Linked DNA regions of Homo sapiens. The protein of the gene in region 1 interacts with the protein of each later gene in a pairwise test. Each region holds a gene or a part of one and is shown on either strand. Other genes may lie near its edges.

Region 1 (3,655 bases):
GAGGCAGGAGAATTGCTTGAACAAGGGTGTCAGAGGTTGCAGTGAGCTGAGATCATACCACTGCACTCCAGCCTGGTGACAGCGAGACTCCGTCTCAAAAAATAAATAAATAAATAAAAATACATAGATCTCATTATTCCAGTCCAGAACTATTTGTTGAAAAGACTGTCCCCTTTTTTCTGTACCTTTGTCAAATATTGTTTGACAATATTTATATATGGTTTAATAGACTGAATATTTGTGCTCTTCTCCTCTCTGTCCCCTGCCTCCCCAAATTCACATGTTGAAATCCTAACTCTCAATATGATGGTATTAAGAAGTAGGGCCTTTGGGAGGTAATTAGGTCATGAAAGTGCAGCCCTCATGAATGAGATTAGTGCCTTTATAAAAAGAGACCCCAGAGAACTCTCTGTTTTCTGCCATGTGAGGATACAATGAGAAGACAGACATCTGTGAACTCAGAAGAAGGGCCTCACTAGAACCCAACGATGCCAGCACTCTCATCTTGGACTTCCAGCCTGCAGAACTGTGAGAAATAAATTGCTGTGTTTATAAGCCACCCAGTCTATGATACTTTGTTACAGCAGCCTAAGCTCATAAGACATATGGATCTAAATCTGGACTATATTCTGTTCCATTGATCTATGCTTCTGTCCTCATGCCAATACCAGGTTTTGTTTTTTTGTTTTGAGATGATGTCTCGCTCTGTCGTCCAGGCTGGAGTGCAGTGGCGCAATCTCAGCTCACTGCAACCTTCGCCTCTGGGTTCAATCAATTCTCCTGCCTCAGCTTCCTGAGTAGCTGGGATTACAGGTGCCCGCCACCATGCCCGGCTAATTTTTTGTATTTTTAGTAGAGACGGGCTTTCACTATGTTGGCCAGGCTGGTCTTGAACTCCTGACCTCGTGATCTGCCTGCCTTGGCCTCCCAAAGTGCTGGGATTACAGGCGTGAGCCACCGCGCCCAGCCACCAGTTTTGATTACTGTAGTTTTATAGTAAGTCTGGAAGTTTGGTAGCTTAAGCCTTTCAATTTTGTTTTTCTTTTTCAAAATCGTTTTGATGGTCTAGGTCCTTTGTATTTCCATATGATTTTAAAATAAGCTTGCTTGGTTTTTGTTTGTTTGTTTACCAAAAAAGCCTACAGCGATTTTGTTCAGAATTGAATTGCATCTTCAGTTAAATCTATGACAAAGGATGTGATCATCACTAGGAAAGCAGTCAGGTATTAGACACTGCATTAAGTCCTTCCTTGAATCCTTGAATTCAAGTAAGATCTGATAGATCTTTTTTTGGAGACGTAGTCTTGCTCTGCCGCCAGGCTAGAGTGCAGTGGCATGATCTCGGCTCACTGCAACCTTCACCTCCCGAGTTCAAGCTATTCTCCTGCCTCAGCCTCACGAGCAGATGGGACTACAGGTGCGTGCCACCACACCCAGCTAATTTTTGTATTTTTAGTAGAGACGAGGTTTCACCATGTTGGCCGGGCTGGTCTCAATCTCTTGACCTCATGATCTACCTGCCTCAGCCTCCCAAAGTGCTGGGATTACAGGCATGAGCCACTGCACCCAGCCAGGTAGATCATTTTTTTGTCTACCATGGTAATGGTGGTTGATAGTGTTCAGATTTTCTATATTCTTACTGGGTTTTCTTTTTTGTTGTTATTTTACTAATTACTGAGAAAGGTAGGGTAAAAATCTTTAATTATGACTGCATTTACCTGTTTTCCCCTTTAGTTATGTTAGTTTTTGCTTTATGTATTTTGAAGGTATGTTATTAGGCACATATGTGTTTTAAAATGGTTATATTTTTCTAATGTATTGACCCTTTTATCATGATGAAATGTCCTTCTTTGATTCCAGAAATAAATCTTATGTAACCCATTTTGGCTGATATTACTAAAGTTTCTTTAATTTTTTTAGTTATTTTTTTCATGATATATCTTTTTTTGTCCTTTTACTTTTTAACCTATATATGTCTTCATATTTAAAGTAAGTCTCCTGGAGTAATACTGAATTGCTTTAGGGAAAATATAGGGATTTTGAATTAGTTTCATTGGGGGAAGCTGGGTGAAGGGTACATATGAACTCTTGTACTATTTTTTAAACTATGTGAGTCTAAAATTATTTTAAGTCTTCATAATTGCTTGTTGCTGCATTTTTAAGATAGCTTGCTTGAAATTCTTTTCTGACTATTGCAACAACTGTGTCATCTCTGCATTGTTGTCTGTTGGTTGTCCTTACTCATCCAAGTTGAGACCTTTTTTCTGTTTGTTGGTATAATAAATATACTTACTTTGGATTGTTTCCTGAACTTTTTGCATATTATGAGACTCTGTTTCCTATTTAAATCTTCTATGTTAATAGACAGCCACTGGGGAGGGAGGAAGAGTACTGCCTCCTTGCAAACATTTGCCTTCTATAGGACAGGAATGGTCAGCAGGGCTCTGTGCCACAGTTTCTGTGGCTGTAACCCCTAGTGGGAGGGGGAAGGGCCACCACCTCTGCTCTCATTGGTTCAAGACGAGGATGGTCAGTAAAGTTCTTTCTTGCTGATTACACAGTAACCAGTTGAAAAGATTTTATTCTGAAAGACTCTTGCCTTCTCAGGCCTTTGGTTAGAGAAAGTATGTTTTTCTTGGGGCTTTTGTTGTTGTTTTTGTTCTATGCCTTTGAGCAGTTTCAGGTTTTGGGCTGCTGTAGCACCCAAAGTAGATTACATCTGTAGCAAAAAAAATCTCTAGGGAACTCACTGCTGAGTCATCCGTCAAGATCTGATGTCTCTATCCAATTTACCTTATTTTCTTCACCTTTCAGAGTCTTCTGGTAGTTGCTTTTTGTTTCCAATTCAAGGTTTTTGGTTGTAATTAGCAGAAAGAATAAGGTGGAGTGTGCTTATTTCATCTTGAGTCTCTTGGTTTCTGTTTTTTTTTCTTTTTTCTTTTTGGTGGCAGGTGGAGGAGAGACCTGCAGGCCCTCTCCCTTCTCCCTCTCGGTGTTTTTAAATATACTAGTTTTCATATGTTGTAATCTTATTTATTTGCCCTGTTTATTTTGTTTTTCAGGCAAATGAAGATAAAACAATGTTCGCCAACCTAAAATACGTTTCCCTGGGAATTTTGGTCTTTCAGACTACCAGTTTGGTTCTAACAATGCGTTATTCCAGAACTTTAAAAGAAGAAGGACCTCGTTATCTATCTTCTACAGCAGTGGTTGTTGCTGAACTTTTGAAGATAATGGCCTGCATTTTATTGGTCTACAAAGACAGCAGTAGGTATCTAGGTTTTTTGTTTTTAATCAATGCAATTTATTTAGTTTGCATATATATATTGGTAACTACACATTTGCACTCTTGCATTGTCGAATGGCCTAGTATGAAGAATATTTCAATATTTTAAAAATTTTCTTAAGACATTTTAAGTCTAGTAATAAAGCCATTTTAATCTGTATCATGATTCATATCTTCTGGTTAATTCTGTAAATATAAAATAGTTTCTTGCATTTATAATAATTTGAGAGTAAGAGTAAATTTTATAAATCTGTTACTGTTAGAACTCTAGAAGAATCATAATAATTTTTTTACTAATGTAAACACCTTCTGTTTTATTTGCTTTATTGATTAGTCCAGCAGTGACTAATTTTATATAGTTTTAAAAAA
Region 2 (3,655 bases), on another chromosome or scaffold:
TAGGTTCCTCCAATCATACCACGTAATTGACCTTGCTCTGCATGTAAGTTCAGTGTTGGTCTCAGTGTATCTAGCTTGCAGTCTATCCATGTGCTTCCACTGTGACTGAGTAGTGTTTGCCTAGTGGCGTCCTGTGTGCTAGAGTGAGAACAGTGGGTCAGTATCCATAGCAAGACCCTTCCCTCGGTAAAGGGAGAGTCTGCAGAGGGCCCAGGTTTCTGTGTATACCCAGCCCGATTTTCATATACTTCCTAAGGACCTACTGAATGCCAGGTACTGGGTATATAAAGACAAATGGAGGATCTCCAGATCAGTTGAGGGCATTCATGCGTTCATCCAGCAAATATTTGCTGAGTCTTGACCATGTGCTAAACCAGAGGTCCCCAGCCTTTTTGGCGTCAGAGACTGGTTTTGTGGAAGACAATTTTTCAACCAACGGGAGAGTTGGGGGGAATGATGGTTTCGGGATGAAACTGTTCCACCTTAGATTATTACCAGGCATTAGATTCTCATAAGGAGTGCGCGACCTCGATCTCTGGCATGTGCAGTTCACAATAGGTTCATGCTCCTATGAGAGTCTAATGCCACTGCTGATCCAATAGGAGGAGGAGCTCAGGTGGTAATCCTCGCTTGCCTGCCACTTACCTCCTGCTCTGCGATCCGGTTCCTAATAGGCCACGGACCGGTATGGGAGTTGGGGACCCCTGTGCAAGACAGTAGGTGCTGGAGATATAACAGTAAACAAAACAAAGCCCTTATTTTCATGGAGTTCAATGTATTCTAGTAGAGGGAGGGGATAAGGGCAGGGACAGATAATAAGCAAATGAATAAATAACATTTGGTGGTGAAGAGCGCTATGAAGAGAAGCGGTATGTGTGGTGGTGGGGGTGGTCAGGGAAAGCCTCTCTGATGAGGGGACACTGAGCAGAGAACTGAGTTTGGCTGCAGAGTTGATACAGGGAGGAGAGCTTTCAGATAGAGGGGACCACAAATACACAGGAAGTCAAGTGGGAGCCACAGGTGACAATGTGGCTAATAAGACACCTTCCTCCCTGGGATGAATCACATTCCACATCAGCAGAGGCTCAGTGGCTACCTTTTGTTTTGCTCTCAACATGTGAGATGTGTGTGCAGCCGTGATCTTGTGTGGCTCGTAGCATGACTTTAGTTGATACGTGGATGTGGGATTAAGTAATATTGAATTACATGATGAGAAAGTTATTTCCTTTCTATTTCTGTTTCAGTTCGGTAAGAATGATAGGAGGTCCTCATGCTTAAAGCCTTCTGTGGGCAACAGTATTTAGCTAGAATCTAGTTGTATTGCTTTTTTTGTGTCAACTTAATGGGTTCCTTCCATTTATGGCAAGCAAAACTTTTCTATTTACGAAGTTCCTTTTAAAAATACATGACTTTTAGAGACTAGAATTGTGGTTATTAGGGACTGGGAAGGGTATGAGGGAGGCAGGGATGGGGAGGTTGGTTAATGGATACAAAATTACAGCTAGATGGGTGGAATAAGTTCTAATGTCCTAGCACTGTAGGGTGAATATGGTTAACAGGAATTTATTATGTGTTTTCAAAATGCTAGAAGAGAGGATTTTGAATATTCCCAGCACAAAGAAAGAATAAATGTTTGACATGATGGATATACTGATTGCCCTTATTTGATCATTACACATTGTATGCATGTATTGAAATGTTACCCTGTATCCCATAAATATATACAATTTTTATGTATCAACCAAAAATAAAAAGAAAAATGTTCATAGGAATATTGAATAGGAAATAAGATTGAAAGTATACCAAATTATTTAGGAAAAAACCATTACTTACATTTAAGTAGAAATGTGTCAACATAAAGGAGACTATAAAAAAATAGGCCAGGCACAGTGGCTCACTCCTGTGATCCCAGCATTTTGGGAGGCCGAGGCGGGCAGATCACCTGAGGTCAGGAGTTTGAGACCAGCCTGGCCAACATGGTGAAACCCCCATCTCTACTTAAAATACAAAAATTAGCCAGGCGTGGTGGCAGGCGCCTGGAATCCCAGCTACTTGGGAGGCTGAGGCAGGAGAATCGCTTGAACCTGGCAGGTGGAGGTTGTAGTGAGCTGAGATCGCGCCATTGCACTCCAGCCTGGGGGACAAGAGCGAAACTTCGTCTAAAAAACAAAACCAACGGAAATAATGGTTGGGTGTAGTGGCTCATGCCTGTAATCCCTACACTTTGGGAGGCTGAGGCGGGTGAATCACTTGAGGTCAGGAGTTTGAGACCAGCCTGGCCAACATGGTGAAACCCCATTTTTACTAAAAATACAAAAAATTAACCGGGTGTGGTGGCAGGCACCTGTAATCCTAGCTAGTCAGGAGGCTGAGGCAGGAGAATTGCTTGAACTCAGGAGGTGGAGGTTGCAGTGAGCCGAGATTGTGCCACTGCACTCCAGCCTGGGCAACAGAGTGAGACTCCATCCCCCCCAAAAAAAAAAAAAAAAAAAAAGAAAAGAAAATAATAATGGTGTGAGGATGTGGCCAAAAGTTGCTTTTCATCATATATTTTTTTAATTTAAAAAGAAAGACAGGCATTTGGGGGAGGAGCCATCACCTGGCTGGCATAGTTAAAGCAGGAAGGCTCCAGTTCTAGTATAGATAGTAGATAGAGCTGTTTTCATGATGCTTCACAGTTTTGCTCTTTCAATTTATGCCCAGTGATAGGAATTAGTTAAATTAACTAGAATTTCAAAATTCGTAAGTTCTCTAAATTTTAAACACATTTACTTGCTAGTGAAACAAAGTCAGCAAGATGGAGCCATATCCTGGTATTATGAATTTTAGAACTGGGTGGGACTCACAGGTCATCTAATTTTTCTCTGAGAAAACAGAGGCCTAGGGAGATTAAGTCAACTTGCCCATGATCACACAGCTAGTTAATGTAATTTATTACTGGGACTAGAATCCAGGCTTTGCAACTCTTGATTTAGGACTTTTTCTGCTGCGCAATCTTGGCTTCCCACTGAGTTTGAAATGGAATTGTATTATGCTGCAGTGTTAATAATTGAAAGAGGCTTTTTAAAAATTGTACTAATGCATTTTTTTTTTTTTCATTTTAAGAGGAGAATTTCCAAGGGCCTTTAGAGGTATGCTGGAATGAGATTTCACTAAAATATTTTATTTTTATGAATGCTAATTTTAATCATTTAAAAGGAAATGATGATCGTTCAGTACTGCATTTTGTCACAAGATTTTTTTCTTCCTACCTCTGCAAGGCTGACATAAAGGAAAAGCGGAAGACTTTCATCGAGTATTTATGGGACTGATGAAATAATGCATCTGTTGGCAGCTAATTGCAGGTCTTTCTAGGAATAGCAAACATGTGACAGGTCTTGCCCCAGCGGAGATGCCTCCATTTCACTTTAAAACATGGATTTGGTATTCTTTTCACTTAGAAATTCTGGCTATGCCTTTTTTTCTCCCTTCTGTGGATGTATAGACCGTTCGGCTGCATCAGACACTGTATTGAACATCAGGGTTGATTTAACTCATTGTTGCTCAGCTGTGGCTATGCTTTGGAATCACCTGGGGAGCTTTTACAAAACTACTGATGCCCAGGCTCTACTCCAGGTGAATCCATTACACAATCTCTGGAGGGTGGGTTCTGGGC

What was found. The genes of interacting proteins can lie anywhere in the genome.
Region 2: the proteins of SLC35A3 (region 1) and CRADD interact in a two-hybrid assay, tested with the Homo sapiens proteins (one large-scale study listed by BioGRID and IntAct).

Annotation. Positions count from the first base shown.
Region 1 is NC_000001.11:99,990,475-99,994,129, forward strand, and holds part of SLC35A3 (UDP-N-acetylglucosamine transporter), read left to right. Parts: intron 1-3,062; coding exon of another isoform or gene 3,063-3,080; coding exon 3,081-3,267; intron 3,268-3,655. UniProt on the Homo sapiens protein: Transports diphosphate-N-acetylglucosamine (UDP-GlcNAc) from the cytosol into the lumen of the Golgi apparatus, functioning as an antiporter that exchanges UDP-N-acetyl-alpha-D-glucosamine for UMP.
Region 2 is NC_000012.12:93,683,832-93,687,486, forward strand, and holds part of CRADD (death domain-containing protein CRADD), read left to right. Parts: intron 1-3,655. UniProt on the Homo sapiens protein: Adapter protein that associates with PIDD1 and the caspase CASP2 to form the PIDDosome, a complex that activates CASP2 and triggers apoptosis.